Homo sapiens: one gene and its partners. The protein of the gene in region 4 purifies or fractionates together with the protein of the main gene of each other region. This does not show direct contact. Each region holds a gene or a part of one and is shown on either strand. Other genes may lie near its edges.

Region 1 (4,229 bases), on a different chromosome or scaffold from region 4:
TCAGGAGCTGGCAGTTGCATCTGTTGTGGCCACTCGGGGCTGCAGCTGAGGCTGTCGCAGTGACATCTGGTTCACTGCTCTGTCCTCACCACCTGCAGGGGTGGGTGCTAGTGCATATGCTGAATGAACGAGTATCATTTGGGCAGCGTTTCCCAGAGGATTCCAAGGAATGTGAGTGCTGTACAATATTCATAGGTGTTGAATGAAAACAATGTTTTGGAAGTGCTGGGCTCTACGAGGTTCTTTACTCGAGAGTCTGCGGTCTCTGTCACATGCAGATGGACACCGGGGATCTGCAGGAAGCGGGGGCACTGTTGCATTTCCAGCCTCTGTTACCAGAGCCCTCTTTTTCAGTTTGCTGAGGGGCACAGCCTTCCCTGTCTGGCCCAGGGCATCTCCAGGCCAGGTGGCAGGTGCCTTCTGAACCAGATGTTTGTGTGCGGGCTGCCAGTCCATATTTATACTGCCGGGACATGGCTCTCCCTGTCTGGAGGGCACTATGGAGTGTGGATATGGGGGTGGCTCTCTGCAGACTTGTGTGGAGGAAACTGATGGAGGCAGCCATCTCCAGGAGATCAGTCATGGTCCTGGCTGCCATCAGTTTCATCTGGGTGGTCTTGGGTACATGTGGCCAATACTGAAGATGCATTTGGACAATTCATAGACACGGAGCTGTAGGTGCTTTTGGGAAAAGCCATGGATGGGTTTGGGCAAGTCATAGATACATTTGGACGAGCCTTGAGTGTGTTCAGGAGAGCCATGGATGGGTTTGGGCAAAGCCATCTCTGCACCTGTTTGTGTTCCATGGTTTCCTTTTCCTCCTCTCCAGGCAGGGTTAACACAGAGTATCCCCATCCTGCGGCGGGACCATCACATCCAGAGGGCCATCGGTCTCTCCCCAATGTCCTTCCCCACCGCCGACCTTACTCTGAAGGTAACACCAGCCCTGAGCTGGGTGAGGGCCCACCCAGTACCTTAGCTTACAAAGAGGCAGAAGGGAGGAGTCCCCGAACCCCTAAAGCTTAGATTGGCTCTGTCCACTGCCAGCGTGATAGTAATTTTCATCCCTCCCCCTCCCCTTGCTTCTGAAGATGGAGTCTGCGCGCAAGGCTTGGGAAAACTCCCCCAGTTTGCCGGAGCAGAGCTCTCCAGGCGGCGCTGGCTCAGGCATCCAGCCTCCATCCTCTGTGGGTGCCTCCAGCGGGGTCAACTACAGCTCCTTCGGTGGAGTGTCCATGCCACCCATGCCTGTGGCCTCTGTAGCACCTTCTGCTTCTATGCCAGGTATCTCATCCCCTGAGCAAGGCCTTGGGGTCCTTCTCCATTTATTATCAAGAAAAACGGATTAACAGCCCCGAATGTCACCTCCTGGCCTTGTCTTAAGTAGCATGTAGAAGTAGCAACTTGTTTTTAGGCCCAGTGGTCGTAGCTCCCATGTGCTGCAGGTAATGTGCACGTCCTGCTTCCCCACGCTGGGAAACAGAACTGGGGGATAACAGCGAGGCACTCCTGCCTACTGGTGACAGGAGCGAGCAAAGGCTTGACTTTGAGTCAGACCTGGGTCATGTGCTGGAGCCGTGTCGCCTCGGCTGGTGAGCAGCTCTTGCCGAGCCACAGTGTCCTCTCCTCTCTTACATGAAACTCCGTGGGGTGGCCACACCCGTGAGGCCAGGTCTTACCTGGAAAGGGCTTTGTATCAACAGAGCCCTCAGTCACTGGCAGCTACTTTTGTCCTGATTGCTGCCATCCTTATCGTGTGCCAGTGTCCCCAAGGGGAAGCGTGGGGGTTTTGAGGGCCCAGCTGCCAGTCTCAGTGATGTAATTCCAATAGATCCTTCTGACCCTCCACTGTGGACTCAATAGCAGGGAGATGAAGAGGACAGTGACTGAGAGACCAAGGCAGCCCTGGTTAAAGTAGAATGCCCCTTCGAGTGTCTGGGGTAGTTGGTGAGTGGGAGGTGGGAAGGGTAGGCCAGAGCCCACCTGCCTCCTCCCTCCTCCTAGGTCTGACGCTGCACCCTCCCTACGTTCCCTGAGGTGCGTGCCAGGCGTGTTGTGAGCAGGCGTGTGCTTCCGGCACACAGGGAACCTAGCAGCCTCTGTACACACGCCCTCGTCCCCACTGAGTCCCCTGGGTAGAGCAGACCTGTAGACTGTTTCCCTCAGGGACATTGAGAAGTAGTGAGGCTTGATCCTCTTCTACGTCCCTTTTGCCGCTCTGTTTCCAGGCAGCCACCTCCCGCCCCTGTACCTGGATGGCCATGTGTTTGCAAGTCAGCCCCGGCTGGTTCCTCAAACGATACCTCAGCAGCAGAGTTACCAACAGGTGACAGCAGCTAGCCAGGTGGCCTGGCTGGGGGTGGTGGGGAGGAGCCAGTGCAGGGCGGAATTGGCTTGCTCATCTATTTCTCATTGTCTGTCTGGTTTTCCATCCCCCTCACATGTGGTGACCAGCACCTGGCCCGCCACGGCAGCCAGGAGGCATTTGTTAAGCGAATAATCGAGACAGGGAAGAGGAGTGGAGTTGGCTGCTCCAGACTCTGCTTAGTTTTCCTTTCTCAAAGTTCTCCCTCCTGTGTCCTAGCCGGGGAATTAGCTAAAATGGAATTTTCTTTGGTGATCAGGTATCCTTCTGATGAAGAGAAGAAAGGCCTAAACTCCCAGGCATGGATGCATTAGAAAGAGGTAGTCTTAGAAATGAGCAGGCGTTGGTTATTTATGCAGGACTGGCATACTTTCTGTGCTGCCAAGGGGTGATTTTTGGAAGTCTCCCCTCTAATGCTGGTGCTGGGCCTTTGGGATGGTCTAGCCGCCCCTCAGACCCATGTGCCTCCACAGCCACGACAGTGGACTTCCAGGCAGAATCTGCTCCAAGTGCAGGCTTGCTGATGGAGGATGTGGCCTCTGCTGACCTCTTTTTAAAAACATGTTCTTAACTGCTGTATTGTTTGGTTACCAAGATTTTGGTTCTTGCATAACTGGGTCAGACTGCATGTATCTTTCTTTTTGTGCATTGTTAAATTCAGCGTTATGTTTTTGGAACTCACCTCTGTTGACGTATGTGCTAGGATCCATTTTTGTTGCTGTGTAGAATTCCAGGGTAGGGATATGCTGTGGTTTGGGGTTGCTACCAGTTTTTCATTATAGGCTTTATCCCAATAGCAAGGGAAGCCCAGGAATGACATGCTGGCATTTGAATTTTGGGCAGTGTTCCAGCAGCCATGTGGAGAGGGGCAGGGGAGGTGGGAGGGGAAGAACCACCTGGATGGGCCTTGCGGTTACCTCCCCGACCCCGTTTTCCCGTTCACAGGCCGCCGCTGCCCAGCAGATCCCGATCTCCCTTCACACATCTCTGCAGGCACAAGCTCAGCTTGGACTGAGGGGTGGGCTTCCTGTGTCCCAGTCCCAGGAGATCTTCAGCTCCTTGCAGCCCTTCAGGTGAGCTCATGTACCAGCTTGCGGAGCTGGCAGCTCACAGCCAGGGCCTTGGCCCTGTGTGCAGCCTTCGTCCTGCAGCTGTTTGGTGCTTGTCTGCTTTGGGGCCAGTGGGGCGGGGAGGGGTGGGAGTTTGCTCTGAATCACTCTTCAGTCCGTTGTTAACTGTGCTCTAGGAGAGGCCTGGGGCGAGCTGATATGTGGTGGGCCGTGTTTTGCTTTTCCATGTCATCTTGCCTCCTTTCCTTGCTCCTTCCTCCTCCTCTCCCCTTGACTCCCTGTCTCCTCCCCACCGCGGGCTTCTCCGTCAGTGTGGCTGCCAGTCATTGTGGCTGATGTCCTGTGCCTCGTACAGCCTGGATGTCTTCACTTGTTTAATCCAGCAGCATCAGCGCCATCTAGGAGCTTGTTCTCAGGCCCCATCCTGGACCCTCTGAGTCGCGCTCTGGGGGTGGGGCCGGGGATCTGTGGTTTAGCAAGCTCTCCGGGGATCTCTGAAGGGTGGGACCAGATCCGCAGCTGGACTCATCCACCTGATCCCGACCATCTGTCTGGCTTTTGCAGATCTCAGGTGTACATGCACCCCAGCCTGTCACCGCCCAGCACCATGATCCTCTCTGGGGGCACAGCCTTGAAGCCTCCATACTCGGCGTTCCCAGGCATGCAGCCCTTGGAGATGGTGAAGCCGCAGTCTGGCTCACCCTACCAGCCCATGAGCGGGAACCAAGCCCTGGTCTACGAGGGCCAGCTCAGCCAGGCTGCTGGCCTGGGTGCCTCCCAGATGTTGGACTCCC
Region 2 (4,229 bases), on a different chromosome or scaffold from region 4:
TGAAGGGGAGAGTGGGAGGCAGCTTTCATCGGGAGCCTTCAGCTGGCCTGGCCCCTTTCCTTTTGCACAGGTAGTTTGAGTTTCATACTAACCCGGAAGTGAGTGCCTGCCAGGTAGGGGAAGGTTTTTAGGAAGTGGTTTTTGGCCCTTTGGGAGGTAGAGGGTAGTCACAAGCTTTCTTGAACTCTGAACCTCCTGAGGGTCGGGGTCTTTCTGCTGACCCACCCACTGTCTATAGTGGGACCTGAACTGGAGTAAGCAATCTTAATAGCTGTTACTGAGCACCCATTCTCTTTTCTGGGAGGTGGGCAGGGTGGGAGGAGGAGGAGGAGCAGCCGGCCTGAAACTACAAAACCTCTTTAAGATGGAGAGCTTGGCAGATGGGAGTTCCCCTGTTTGCAAAACCCAAGACAGCTCAAAGGGAGTAATTAGGGTGTTGGGGCCACTGGAGGTTCAGCAGGTGCCTCAGTCCAGACTCAAAAACCTCCCTGGCTGGTCCAGAGTGATCTAAGGGAGTGGCCAGGAGAGAGGATGGCCTTACCTTGCCTGGGATTCAAGAAAGGAAGTAAGTTTTGGTACCTCGCTGGTGAAAACATGGGAAACAGCACATCAATGTGAAGGGAGAAGGTGATGGGATTTAAATTAGAACATGGGCAGGGTACTTCTCTCTGCTCTCACTTTGTGACCTTAGATTGTTTGTCTAACCTGTTTTCCTTATTCACAGAATGGGGCTAATCCCGGTGCTGAGGTTGTTTAGAGCGTCAAATTGCTGTTGAGTATGGGGCAGTACAGTTCATGAATTGAAAAAGTCCTGCTGGGCGCGGGGGTTCACACCTGTAATCCTAGCACTTTGGAAGGCCGAGGCGGGCGGATCATGAGGTCAGGAGTTTTAAGACCAATCTGGCCAGCATAGTGAAACCTCGTCTCTACTAAAAATACAAAAAAATTAGCCAGGCATGGTGGCGTGTGCCTGTAGTCCCAGCTACTCAGGAGGCTGAGGCAGGAGAATTGCTCGAACCGGGGAGGCGGAGGTTGCAGTGAGCTGAGATCGTGCCACTGCACTCCAGCCTGGGTGACAAGAGCAAGACTCCATCTCAAAACAAAACAAAAAAACCAAAAAAACCTCCTACACAGAGGTAAGATGTAAGTTTTTTTTTTTATTTCAGAAGATTGCATTCCAAAGCCAGATATTGGTAATTACTCACTCTGAGGGTTTATCTGTGCCTTTCCGGAACTGAGTGGATAATCAGGAGTTAGCTGAATTTTCAACAAGGGCTATTTGTGGTAGTTACCAGGGGCAAGTGGCCAACTTCACATGGCTAATAGCCTGGGATGTCTTCCTGAAGGATGTTCCCAGAATCAAGGACAGTCCTAGTGTGGCACCTTTTTTTTCTTGGCTGAACCTTTAGACTGGCAAAGCCCTAGGTGTGGGGAGGGGAGGATTGTGGGTCTTCATAGATGAATTTTGTAAAGCCAGCTTGGTAGATCTGTCATATATGGCATGGGACTTCTCCATCTCAGTTTGATGTGCTGTTAGTAAACCTAGATGATTCCTCCATGACAGGCCTTGTTTACAGGCCACTTTGTAATTATTCTCCAAACTAGTGGTAACCACCTTACTCTCAAGACATACATTCCAGCCACTCAAAGTTGCCTTTTTCTTTGCCTTAGAATGGAGTTGCAAGCTTCTCAGAGGAAATTAAGTCCCACAGTAGCCAGGAGCCATCTAGATAAATGATCTGATAGAGATAGGGCTCTGTATGGTTTTTGCTCTGCTTTTCACTTAAACTAATTTATTTAGGCTCTTGATAATTCAGAGATAAGTAATAGTACTGGAATAGTCACCATTTACTGCATTTACTGAGTGTCTCACCTGTTCTAGCCCAAGTGATCTGCTGAGCAGATGCTTTTTTTTTTTTTTTTTTCTTTTTTTGAGAAAGAGTTTCTCTCGTTGCCCAGGCTGGAGTGCAGTGCACGATCTCAGCTCACCGCAACCTATGCCTCCTGGGTTCAAGCGATTCTCCTGCCTCAGCCTCCCAAGTAGCTGGGATTACAGCCATGCACCACCACGCCTGGCTAATTTTTTGTATTTTTACTAGAGATGGGGTTTCTTCATGTTGGTCGGGTTGGTCTCGAACTCCTGACCTCAGGTGATCTGCCCACTTCGGCCTCCCAAAGTGCTGGGATTACAGATGTTAGCCACCGCGCCTGGCCCAGCAGATGCTCTTTTTATTCCCACTTCACAGATGAGGAAAGTGAGACTCAGGAGACGTTTAGCAACTCTGTCCTTCTAATTGCTCAGACTAAAGACCTTAAGATCATCCTTGCCACCTCTGTTTTTTTTTTTCTGGCTGGTTGCAGTGGCTCACACCTGTAATCCCAGCACTTTGGGAGACCGAGATGGTAGGATCATGTGAGCCCAGGAGTTCAAGGCTGCAAGTGAGCTGTGATTGTGCCACAGTACTCCAGCCTGGGCGACAGAGTGAGACCCTGTCTCTAAAAAGTAAATGTCTTTTTGTGACCCCACATGTAATGTACTAGTACATCCTTTGACAATTAAACACTGTGTCCTGGCCGGGCACAGTGCCTCATGCCTGTAACCCCAGCACTTTGGGTGGGAGGCCAAGGTGGGCAGATTGCTTGAGCCTGGAAGTTTGAGACCAGTCTGGGTAACATAGGGATACCCCATCTCTTACAAAAAAAAAAAAGTACAAAAATTAGTCGAGCATGGTGGTGCGTGCCTGTAATCCCAGCTCCTGGGGAGGCTGAGGTGGGAGGATCACTTGAGCCTTGGGAGGTAAAGGCTGCAGTGAAAGATGAGTGTGTCACTGCACTCCAGCCTGGGCAACAGAGCAGGACTGTCTCAAAAAGAAAAAGCTGCCTGGGTGCGGTGGTTCACGCCTGTAATCCCAGCACTTTGGGAGGCCGAGGCAGGTGGATCACCTGAGGTCAGGAGTTCAAGACCAGCCTGGCCAACACAGTGAAACCCTGCCTCTACTAAACATACAAAAATTAGCTGGGCGTGGTGGCATGCGCCTGTAATCCCCAGCTACTCGGGAGGCTGAGGCAGGAGAATCGCTTGAACCTGGGAGGCAGAGGTTGCAGTGAGCTGAGATTGCACCATTGCACTCCAGCCTGGGTGACAGAGCAAGACTTCATCTCAAAAAAAAAAAAAAAGCTGCATCCAGGTTGGGTGTGGGGGCTTATACCAGTCATCCCAGCACTTTGGGAGGATCACTTGAGCGCAGGAGTTCAAGACCAGCCTGGGCAACATAGTGAGAGACCCCATCTCTTTAAAAAAAAATTAACTGGGTGTGGTGGTGCATTCCTGTGGTCTGAGCTACTCTGGAGGCTGAGGTGGAAGGATTGCTTGAGCCCAGGAGGTCGAGGCTATATTGAGCAAGAGCCACTGCACTCCAGCCTAGGCAATGCAGTGAGACCATGTCTCAAAAAAAAAAAAAAAAAAAAAAAAACTGGCTGGGCGTAGTGGCTCACACCTGTAATCCCAGCACTTTGGGAGGCCGAGGCGGGAGGGTCAGTTGAAGTCAGGAGTTTGAGACCAGCCTAGCCAACATGGTGAAACCCAGTCTCTACCAAAAATACAAAAAGTAGCTGGGCGTCATCGTGCACACCTGTAATCCCAGCTACTTGGGAAGCTGAGGCACAAGAATCGCTTGAACCTGGGAGGCAGAGGTTGCAGTGAGCCGAGATCATGCCACTGCTCTCCAGCCTGGGCAACAGAGCAAGACTCCATCACAAAAAAAAAAAAAAAGAAACAACAAAAAAAACCTATGTCCAGATCTAAATGCTTGTACCGCCTCGTCTCTTGCTGGCCTGGACCATACATCATCATTTCTCATGTAGATTTTTGCAGCAGCCTCTTAACTGGTCTCCTATCACTCCTACTTAAAGCCCTCTGGTAACTTCTTAGCAGAGTAAAATTCAGAGTCCTTAGAGTGTTCTCTAAGACCGCACTTGATCTGGTCTCTGTCCACCTAACCTCTGACCTCATCTTTCATCACTTGCCCCTTCTTCACTCATTCCCTTCCAGCATCAGTCCTCACTTCCTGAAACATGTCATGTACTCTTTGCTTTGGGTCTTATGTTCTGTAGTGCTCTTCCCGCAGATCACTGTGGTGGAAATGCCTTCCCAGACCACCCTATATAGACTAGCAAGTCCTGACCTTGGATTCCCTCTCTCCATCCCTCTTACCCTGCTTCATTTTTCT
Region 3 (4,229 bases), 6.4 Mb from region 4:
TGTGACAAGTACTCAGAGATGACATAAGGATTATAGAGAAGGTAGCAATTAATTTTACTAGGTAGGGCAAAAATGGGTAGGCAGGGCAAGCTTCCCAGAGAAGGTCACATTTGAATTTCGCCTTGAAGGATGAGCTACAACAACCAACCTGTAGGCAAGTGAAAATTGCCCTCATGCCAGGTTTCTCATAAATACCTTAGGTTGCTGAGCCCTGACTGAAAGTGGTGCTACAGGTGCATGGGCAGAAGCAGAGCTAAATTAATTTGGTTCCATTTTTAAGCAGTAAGAGACTTGCAAAGACTATCCTTTAAAAAAAAAATCACTAGAAAAAGAACTAGGCATGGTGCTGGACACAGTGGCTCACTACTGTAATCCTAGCACTTTGGGAGGCCAAGGCAGGAGGATCACTTGAGGTCAGCAGTTTAAGTCCAGGCTGTGCAATTTAGCGAGACTCAGTCTCTACAAAAAATTAAAAAATTATCCAGGCATGGTGGTGTGCACCTGTGGTCCCAGATACTCTGGAGGCTAAGGCAGGAGGATCACCTGAGCCCAGGAGGTAGAGACTACAGTGAGCTGTGATCGTGCCACTACTCTCCAGCCTGTGCAACAGAGCAAGACCCCATCTCAAAAAAAAAAAAAAAAAAAAGACCCCCCTCCACTATAGAAAATATGAAGTTCCCACGAAGGGAACCATAATCCTCCCCACATCCCATTGGTATTCTAGCTTTATTAAGGCTTTTTTCCTTTTCTGCCTCCCGTAGAAGGGGGACTGTTTTATTCTTGCAAGTACAGTACCTGCACGAGAAGTCTGCTTTTTAAGTCATGTGTGGCTCTTCTACATGTATACTGATGGCTGAAGCCACAGAGGGACACTGGAGTGATTTACTTATCAGACGGTTTTTGTCCTGGTTTTGCTTTCAGGTATAGTAGAGTGCAATGGAGGAGTGGCCGAAGAGGATGAAGTGGAGGTCATCCTTGCACAGGAGCCTGCGGCTGATCAGGAAGTGCCAAGGGATGCTGTCTTGCCTGAGCAGTCCCCAGGAGACTTTGACTTTAATGAGTTCTTTAACCTTGATAAGGTGCCATGCTTGGCTTCGGTGAGTGTAGCAGCACACTTAAAAAATGTGTGGTTAAATTTGACCTGAGTATTTAAGACATCGGTTTGAAAGTGTTGTTTTGCTAGATGCTTTTGGGGTTTTTGGCTTTTATTCTTACATATTTAAATTTTTGTTGGCTTTGTTTTGAGAGGCTTAATGGATAATATGAGATTTTTGTACCAGTTAACTCTTTTTTAAGCTGGTGGTGTTAGACTAAAAATTCTTTTTTTGTTGTTTTTTTTTTTTTGAGTTGGAATCTTACTCTGTCACCCAGGCTGAAGTGCAGTGGCACGATCTTGGCTCATTGCAACCTCCGTCTCCTGGGTTCAAGCGATTCTTCTGCCTCAGCCTCCTGAGTAGTTGGGATCACAGGTGTGTGCCACCATGCCCAGCTAATTTTTGTATTTTTAGTAGAGATGGGGTTTCACTATGTTGGCCAGACGGGTCTTGAACTCCTGACCTTGTGATCCTCCTGTCTTGGTCTCCCAAAGTGCTGGGATTACAGGCGTGAGCCACCGCACCTGGCTTTTTAAAGTTATTTTTAGAATTCCTGTTTATCACTAAGATGCTTATATTTTGGATACACTCCCCAATTTTTCACAGTGATGTATCATGCTTATCTTATATTTTAATTAATACAAAATTAGTGCACTTAAAAGTCAGCATTATTTAAGGTATGAGCATCTACAGGTGGAATGTGATTGAAATTGTCTAGATAATTCCTCTGAAAATAGAAATTCTGGAAACAATAATTAGGGTCTTGAATTAAAATCCCTTCAAAAGAAGTATATTGTGGCTTAATTTGGGTATGGATTATGAAAACATTCTTCCAGATAAGAACAAAGAATAAATCTAAGCTTCCCCTGCTTAACTTTGGAAACTGTGGGTTCCAGATTTCAAATAAAACAGTCACTAATTCTGTCATCCATGTACCAGTTTTTGAAAAAGCATGTTTTCTGTTTATCAGTGGGATTGACGTGAAAGTATATGACTTATTTTCAAGGATATGTCTGATTTTTGGATAGATGTTTGCTCTATCTTGTCTTTTCTAAATATTGATAAGAATACTGCAAAAAATCAATTTGGATATTTGACTGAATTTATGGTATGATTTGAATTGAAAAATTTTTTAAATGCTTAAATCTAGTTTTTAAGAAAGATTGGCACTATTTCATAATTTCTACCAAAGCAATTTATTGTTCATAGTGTGTTATTTAATTGTCCTTATTAAATGTAAACTATGGAGGTTGGATTTGGAAACAGAAAACACCTGAAAACTCTCTATTAATCTCAAACAGAAATTAGAGATCAGTTGAAATTTCATCTTCCACAATCATACTTTTTCTAAACTTTGACTTGGAATTACAGTCTTTATGAGCTCTGCTTTTTTAGCCTTTGGCTTCTGAAACTCTCAAGATTGAATTTCATAATGTTCATTACAACCTTGAAACCACTAAGTTTGAAGCAATGGTTTTCTTTCATCAGTTCCCCATACTTGATATTTAGTTGAAGGTCACTCATCAGCTTGTCAGTGGAATGCTGTGGCATTGACACTGTTCTCTGAGAACATTTGGTAGTACGTGGATTTACTCCTGAGGCAAAGGATAGAAACCCAAAAACCTTTTTGTAGCATAGAGGCTTTGCTTTATATTCTTAGAAAGTAGTGGTGGTTCATGCCTGTAATCCCAGCACTTTGGGAGGCCAAGGCAGGTGGATCATTTGAGGTCAGAAGTTCGAGACAAGCCTGGCCAACATGGTAAAAACCCATCTCTACTAAAAATAAAATTAAAAATAGCCAGGCATATGGTGGCGTATGCCTGTAGTCCCAGCTACTCGAGAGCCTGAGGCATAAGAATCACTTGAACCTGGGAGGCAGAGGTTGCAGTGAGCCAAGATTGCACCCCTGCACTTCAGCCTGGGCAACAGAGCGAGACTGTCTTAAAAAAATAGTAGACCGGGTGTGGTGGCTCATGCTTGTAATCCCAGCACTTTGGGAGGCCAAGGCGGGCGGATCACAAGGTCAGGAGATCGAGACCATCCTGGCTAACACGGTAAAACCCCGTCTCTACTAAAAATACAAAAAATTAGCCGGGCGTGGTGGCAGGCGCCTGTAGTCCCAGCTACTCAGGAGGCTGAGGCAGGAGAATGGTGTGAACCCGGGAGGCGGAGCTTGCAGTGAGCCGAGATCGTGCCACTGCACTCCAGCCTGGGTGACAGAGCGAGACTCTGTCTCAAAAAAAAAAAAAAAAAAGTAATAAAAAATAAAAAAGGAAAGTAAGTAGATGGTTATACTCAAGTTTGGGTTATTCAGAAATTACCCAGGATGGAGGAAGAAAAAGGTGTTCAAATTCCTAGGTTCTGAGAGTATTTATCTTCAGGTCACGAGCATGAAAGGAAGTTTCAAAGTAAGTGACCCTTTCATAAGATTTAAACCTTCTTGTCCTTTTTCATCTAGAAACTATTAGTTTTTATTGTCTTTTTCTTCAGATGATAGAAGATGTTTTGGGAGAAGGGTCAGTCTCTGCCAGTCGGTTCAGTAGGTGGTTCTCTAACCCGAGCAGATCAGGAAGCCGATCCAGCAGTCTTGGGTCAACACCACATGAAGAGCTAGAGAGACTTGCAGGTAAAATGGCTTCAGATTCTGCCCTTGAAGGTAAACCTGGGTTTTTCCCTGATATGGTTCATTTTATCTTCATTAGTCAGGAGTCAATTAGGGTCAAAGGGTCTCTGGACAACTGAAAAGCCTTCAATTTGTGTCCTTTTAATATTGTTGAAGGGGCCGGGTGCAGTGGCTCACGCCTGTAATCCCAGCACTTTGGGAGGCCAAGGCAGGCAGATCACAAGGTTAGGAGTTTGAGACCAGCCTGGCCAACATGGTGAAACCCCCATCTCTACTAAAAATACAAAAATCAGCCAGGCGTGGTGGCGGGCATCTGTAGTCCCAGCTACTCAGGAGGCTGAGGCAGGAGAATCGCTTGAAACTGGCAGGCGGAGGTTGCAGTGAGCCGAGATTGCGCCACTGCACTCCAGCCTGGGCGAAAAAGCGAAACTCCATCTCAAAGAAAAAAAAAAAAAAAAAGAAAGAAAGAAAAATACTGTCGAAGGCATGTTTCTTTACTGGAACAGATTAAT
Region 4 (4,959 bases):
GGAGATCAAGACCGTCCTGGCCAATATGGTGAACCCCATCTCTACTAAAAATACAAAAATTAGCTGGGCGTGGTGGCGGGTGCCTGTAGTCCCAGCTACTTGGGAGGCTGAGGCAGGAGACTTGCTTGAACCTAGGAGGCGGAGGTTGCAGTAAGCCAAGATTGCACCACTGCACTCCAGCCTGGGCAACAGAGCGAGACTCCACTTCAAAAAAATAAAAAAAGGCTGGGCATGGTGGCTCACGCCTGTAATCCCAACACTTTGAGAGGCGAAGGTGGGCGGATCACTTGAGGTCAGGAGATCAAGACCAGCCTGACCAACATGAAGAAACCCCATCTCTACTAAAAATACAAAATTAGCCAGACGTGGCAGCGCATGCCTGTAATCTCAGCTACTCCGGAGGCTGAGGCAGGAGAATTGCTTGAACCCGGGAGGTGGAGGTTGCAGTGAGCCAAGATCGTGCCATTGCACTCCAGCCTGGGCAACAAGAGTGAAACTCCGTCTCAAAAAAAAAAAAAAAAAAAAAACTTGCATGATCCCAGCACTTTGGGAGGCTGAGGCAGGCAGATCACGAGGTCAGGAGATCAAGACCATCCTGGCTAACACGGTGAAACCCTGTCTCTACTAAAAATACAAAAAATTAACCGGGCATGGTGGTGGGCGCCTGTGGTCCCAGCTACTCGGGAGGCTGAGGCAGGAGAATGGTGTGAACCCGGGAGGCGGAGCTTGCAGTAAGCAGAGCTCGCGCCACTGCACTCCAGCCTGGGCGACAGAGCGAGACTCCATCTCAAAAAAAAAAATTGCAGGATATAAACTTCACCATTTTAAAATGTGCAATTTGGCCAGGTGTGATGCTTTACACCTATAATCCCAGCACTTTGGGAGGCCAAGGCTGGCAGATCACTTGAGACCAGGAGTTCAAGACCAGCCTGGCCAACATGGTGAAACCCCATCTGTACTAAAAATACACAAATTAGCTGAGTGTGGGGGCGCATGCCTGTAATACCAGCTACTTGGGAGGCTGAGGCACAAGAATCGCTTTAGCCTAGGAGGTGGAGGTTGCAGTGAGCCAAGATCATGCCACTGCACTCCAGCCTGAGTGACAGAGTGAGACCCTGTCTCCATAAATAAATAGAATGAATGAATGAATGAATGAAGAATTCAGTGGTTATTAGTATGTTCACAGTGTTTTGCAACCATCTCCACTGTCTAATTCCAAAACATTTCTGTCCCCCCAAAAAGAAACTCCCTACCCACTAGCAGTCACTCGCAGTTCCCCAGTTCCCCCTTTCTGCCATCCCCTAGCAAACCCCTAATCTGCTTTGGTCTCTCTGCATTTGACATTTCAGATAAATGGAATCATGTAATATATGGACTTTTGTGTTTGGGTCCTTTCACTGAGCATGTCTTCAAGTTTCATCCATATTATAGCATGTGTCAGTACATTCCTTTTATAGCTGAATAATATCCCATGTATTAATGTACTGCATTTTGTTTATCCATTTGTTGTTGCACATTTGGGGTTTTTGGTTTTTGGGGGTTTTTTGTTCCTTTTTTCACTTTTTGGCTTATGAATAGTGCTGCTGTGAATATTCATCTAGAAGTTATTGTGTGAACATATGTTTTTAATTTTCAGATATATATCTAGTTGTGGAATTTCTAGGTCAGTTTGGGTAGTTTGTTTTTGAAAGTTCATTTTGCTTTAAAATAAATACTCTCATTTCATTTTTATGGCTTCTGGAAGACTTGGTTTTTGCCATAAGTTAGCTAGCCCGATACAAACAGATTTGCCAAAAGTAATAACACGTCAGTAGTGGAAGTTTTCCAGTGTTTTAAATCATGCTTTTATAAATCAAAGAAAACTGAGCCAGGCTTCGTAGCGTGTACTTGTAGTCCCAGCTATGGGAGAGAGTCCCTTATAGCCCCTGCCTTAGGACGCTGAGGCAGGAGGATGGCTTGAGCCCAGGCGTTTGAGGCTGCAGTGACCTAAGATCTTACCACTGCAGTGCAGCCTGGGTAACAAAGTGAGACCCTGCCTCTAAAAATAAATAAATATATAAATAAATAAAAATAAAGAAAACTTTCTCCCTTGCCAGGATCATGTCAAGCCTTTTTTTTTTTTTTTTTTTTTTTTTTTTTTAAGATAGCATCTTAATCCTCCAGTTGTCCAGGCTGGAGTGCAGTGGCAAAATCACAGCTCACTGCAGCCTCAACTCCCGGGGGCTCAGGTGATCCTCCTATCTCAGCTTCTCAAGTAGCTGGGACTACAGGACTGCACCACCACATCTTGCTAATTTTTGTATTTTTTGTAGAGATGGGGTTTTACCATGTTGCCCAGCCTGGTCTCAAATACAAACTCTTGGGCTCGGGTAGTCTGCCCACCTCTGCCTCCCAAAGTGCTGGGATTGCAGGTGTGAGCCACCATGCCTGGCCTAGTTTTTTCTCAATACCTGACATATATACGTTCTTTGGCAATTATAGTAGCCTCCTGCATTCCTCTGTCACCTCTTAATTACCAGCCTAGCTATTCTCAACTAATCTGGGTAGTTTAACAAAACATTTCTCCTAAGAATTGGCTATTTGATTATTATTTAATTGCATGTTTTACTGTTATTCCTCTGTTGCTGGTTCAGGTTTGTCTTTGGCAAAGTGCTTCTTTTTTTTTTCCTTTTTGACTCTTCATTCTTAACTTGAAAGAAATCCTATCAGAGATTTAGAACGTTCTTAGATCTTAACCTAGGGGATATAGAAAATTTTAAAGTAAAATGGTGTTCAAAATATTTTCAGCTAAAAACAAAACTTAAAGATTGGACTAATTTGCAATTTTATCAACAGTGTAGGAGCATAAACTTTTTTTTTTTTTTTTTTTTGAGATGGAGTCTCACTTTGTCACCCAAGCTGGAGTGCAGTGACGCAGTCTCGGCTCACTGCAACCTCTCCCTCCTGGGATTACAGGTGCCCGCCACTACGCCCAGCTAATTTTTAGTAGAGATGGGGTTTCACCATGTTGGTCAGGCTGGTCTTGAATTCCCAACCTCCCAAAGTGCTGGGATTACAGGCGTGAGTCACCATGCCCAGCCAGCATAAACATCTTTATTCCCAAAATAAAAAAGACGAGGCTGGGCACGGTGGCTCACGCCTGTAATCCCAACACTTTGGGAGGCCAAGACGGGCGAATCATGAGGTCAGGAGATCGAGACCATCCTGGCTAACATGGTGAAACCCCGTCTCTACTAAAAACATACAAAAAAAATTAGCCAGGCATGGTGGCGGGTGCCTGTAGTCCCAGCTACTCGGGAGGCTGAGGCAGGAGAATGGTGTGAACTCGGGAGGTGGAGCTTGCAGTGAGCCGAGATCGCACCACTGCACTCCAGCCTGAGTGACAGAGCAAGACTCCATCTCAAAAAAAAAAAAAAGACTAGAAAATAAAAGACAAAAAAAAAGTCTAGAAAATAAAAGTACAAATGAATTGATAAAAAAAATATATATAAACTAGGCCGGGCACATTGGCTCATGCCTGTAATCCCAGCACTTTGGGAAGCTGAGGCGAGTGGATCACCTGAGGTCAGGAGTTTGAGACCAGCCTGATTAACATGGTAAAACCTCATCTCTACTAAAAATACAAAAATTAGCCAGGCAAGATGGCGGGAGCCTGTAATCCCAGCTACTTGGGAAGCTGAGGCAAGAGAATTGCTTGAACCCTGGAGGCGGAGGTTGCAGTGAGCTGAGATCATGCCATTGCACTCCAGCCTGGGCGACGAGCAAAACTCCATCTCAAAAAAAAAAAGAAAAGAAAAACTCTCTAGAAAGAGTGAGTTACTGTTAACTGGTGGTGTTTTTCCAGTGGTCTTTTCCCCACCTTTACATCTAACACTCACCATCATTATCACTTGCAAGTCCATGGTGGCTCCTGGGTTAGATGGCCCTGCTCCTCCACCTGGCTGCTCTTCCCTGACTGTGCTTTCCCCCACAGGACATGATCCACATCGCGGACACCAAGGTCGCCAGGCGTTATGGGGATTTCTTCATCCGTCAGATCCACAAATTTGAGGAGGTGAGAGATCTGAGAGAAGAGGGGTTTGTTGGCTCAGGACAGAGCTTAGGAACTGAATCGAGAGTTTACTTTTTTTTAATTTTTATTCCTTTATTTATTTTGAGATGGAGTCTTGTGCTGTCACCCATGCTGGAGTGCAGCGACGTGATCTTAGCTCACTGCAACCTCTGCCTCCTGGGTTCAAGCGAGTCTCCCTCCTCAGCCTCCCGCATAGCTGGAATTACAGGTGTGTGCCACCACACCCAGCTAATTTTTGTATTTATGGTAGAGATGGGGTTTCACCATGTTGGCCAGGCTGGTCTCCAGCTCCTGGCCTCAAGTGATCCAGTCCGTCTCAGCTTCCCAAAGTGTTGGGATTACAGGCATGAGCCACCATGCCTGGCCTTTTAAATTTTTCATTTCTGTTATTAAGAAAGCCTACTGCCCTCCAGCCTGGGCAACCGAGCAAGACCCTGTCTCAAGAAAAAAAAAAAAGAAAAAGAGGCCAGGTGCAGTGGCTCATGCCTGTAATCCCAGCACTTTGGGAGGCTGAATTTGAGATCAGGAGTTCAAGACCAGCCTGGCCACATGGTGAAACCTCATGTCTACTAAAAATTAAAAAAATTAGCTGGGTGTGGTGGTGCGCACCTGTAATCCCATCTACGCAGAAGGCTGAGGCAGGAGAATGATTTGAACCTGGGAGATGGAGGCTGCAGTGAGCAGAGATCATGCCACTGCAAAAGAAAGCTTGAGGTTGGCCCTTTAAATTTTCAAGCTAGACTGGCTGGCTGCTTGGGGTTTGGGGAGTGGGGTTGGGCCTGTAGGAATTGCTGCATCAGCCTTCTCCAGAGCATCTCTTTCCAAGATCTCCCTCTGCGGGTGGCCAGCTCTCCTCTCCCTCCCTGGTATTTCCTAATATGGGTGGA

The links.
Region 1: the proteins of EIF3L (region 4) and PRRC2B purify together in Homo sapiens (affinity purification with mass spectrometry; 2 studies listed by BioGRID and IntAct, with this or other methods). This does not show direct contact.
Region 2: the proteins of EIF3L (region 4) and LARP1 fractionate together in Homo sapiens (co-fractionation; one large-scale study listed by BioGRID). This does not show direct contact.
Region 3: the proteins of EIF3L (region 4) and EIF4ENIF1 purify together in Homo sapiens (affinity purification with mass spectrometry, with the first as the bait; one large-scale study listed by BioGRID). This does not show direct contact.

Annotation. Positions count from the first base shown.
Region 1 is NC_000009.12:131,483,857-131,488,085, forward strand, and holds part of PRRC2B (protein PRRC2B), read left to right. Parts: intron 1-829; coding exon 830-934; intron 935-1,091; coding exon 1,092-1,284; intron 1,285-1,808; exon of another isoform or gene 1,809-1,894; intron 1,895-2,228; coding exon 2,229-2,326; intron 2,327-3,310; coding exon 3,311-3,438; intron 3,439-3,999; coding exon 4,000-4,229.
Region 2 is NC_000005.10:154,761,148-154,765,376, forward strand, and holds part of LARP1 (la-related protein 1), read left to right. Parts: intron 1-4,229. UniProt on the Homo sapiens protein: RNA-binding protein that regulates the translation of specific target mRNA species downstream of the mTORC1 complex, in function of growth signals and nutrient availability.
Region 3 is NC_000022.11:31,455,343-31,459,571, reverse strand, and holds part of EIF4ENIF1 (eukaryotic translation initiation factor 4E transporter), read left to right. Parts: intron 1-921; coding exon 922-1,097; intron 1,098-3,584; coding exon 3,585-3,720; intron 3,721-4,229. UniProt on the Homo sapiens protein: EIF4E-binding protein that regulates translation and stability of mRNAs in processing bodies (P-bodies). Plays a key role in P-bodies to coordinate the storage of translationally inactive mRNAs in the cytoplasm and prevent their degradation.
Region 4 is NC_000022.11:37,882,792-37,887,750, forward strand, and holds part of EIF3L (eukaryotic translation initiation factor 3 subunit L), read left to right. Parts: intron 1-3,973; coding exon 3,974-4,054; intron 4,055-4,959. UniProt on the Homo sapiens protein: Component of the eukaryotic translation initiation factor 3 (eIF-3) complex, which is required for several steps in the initiation of protein synthesis.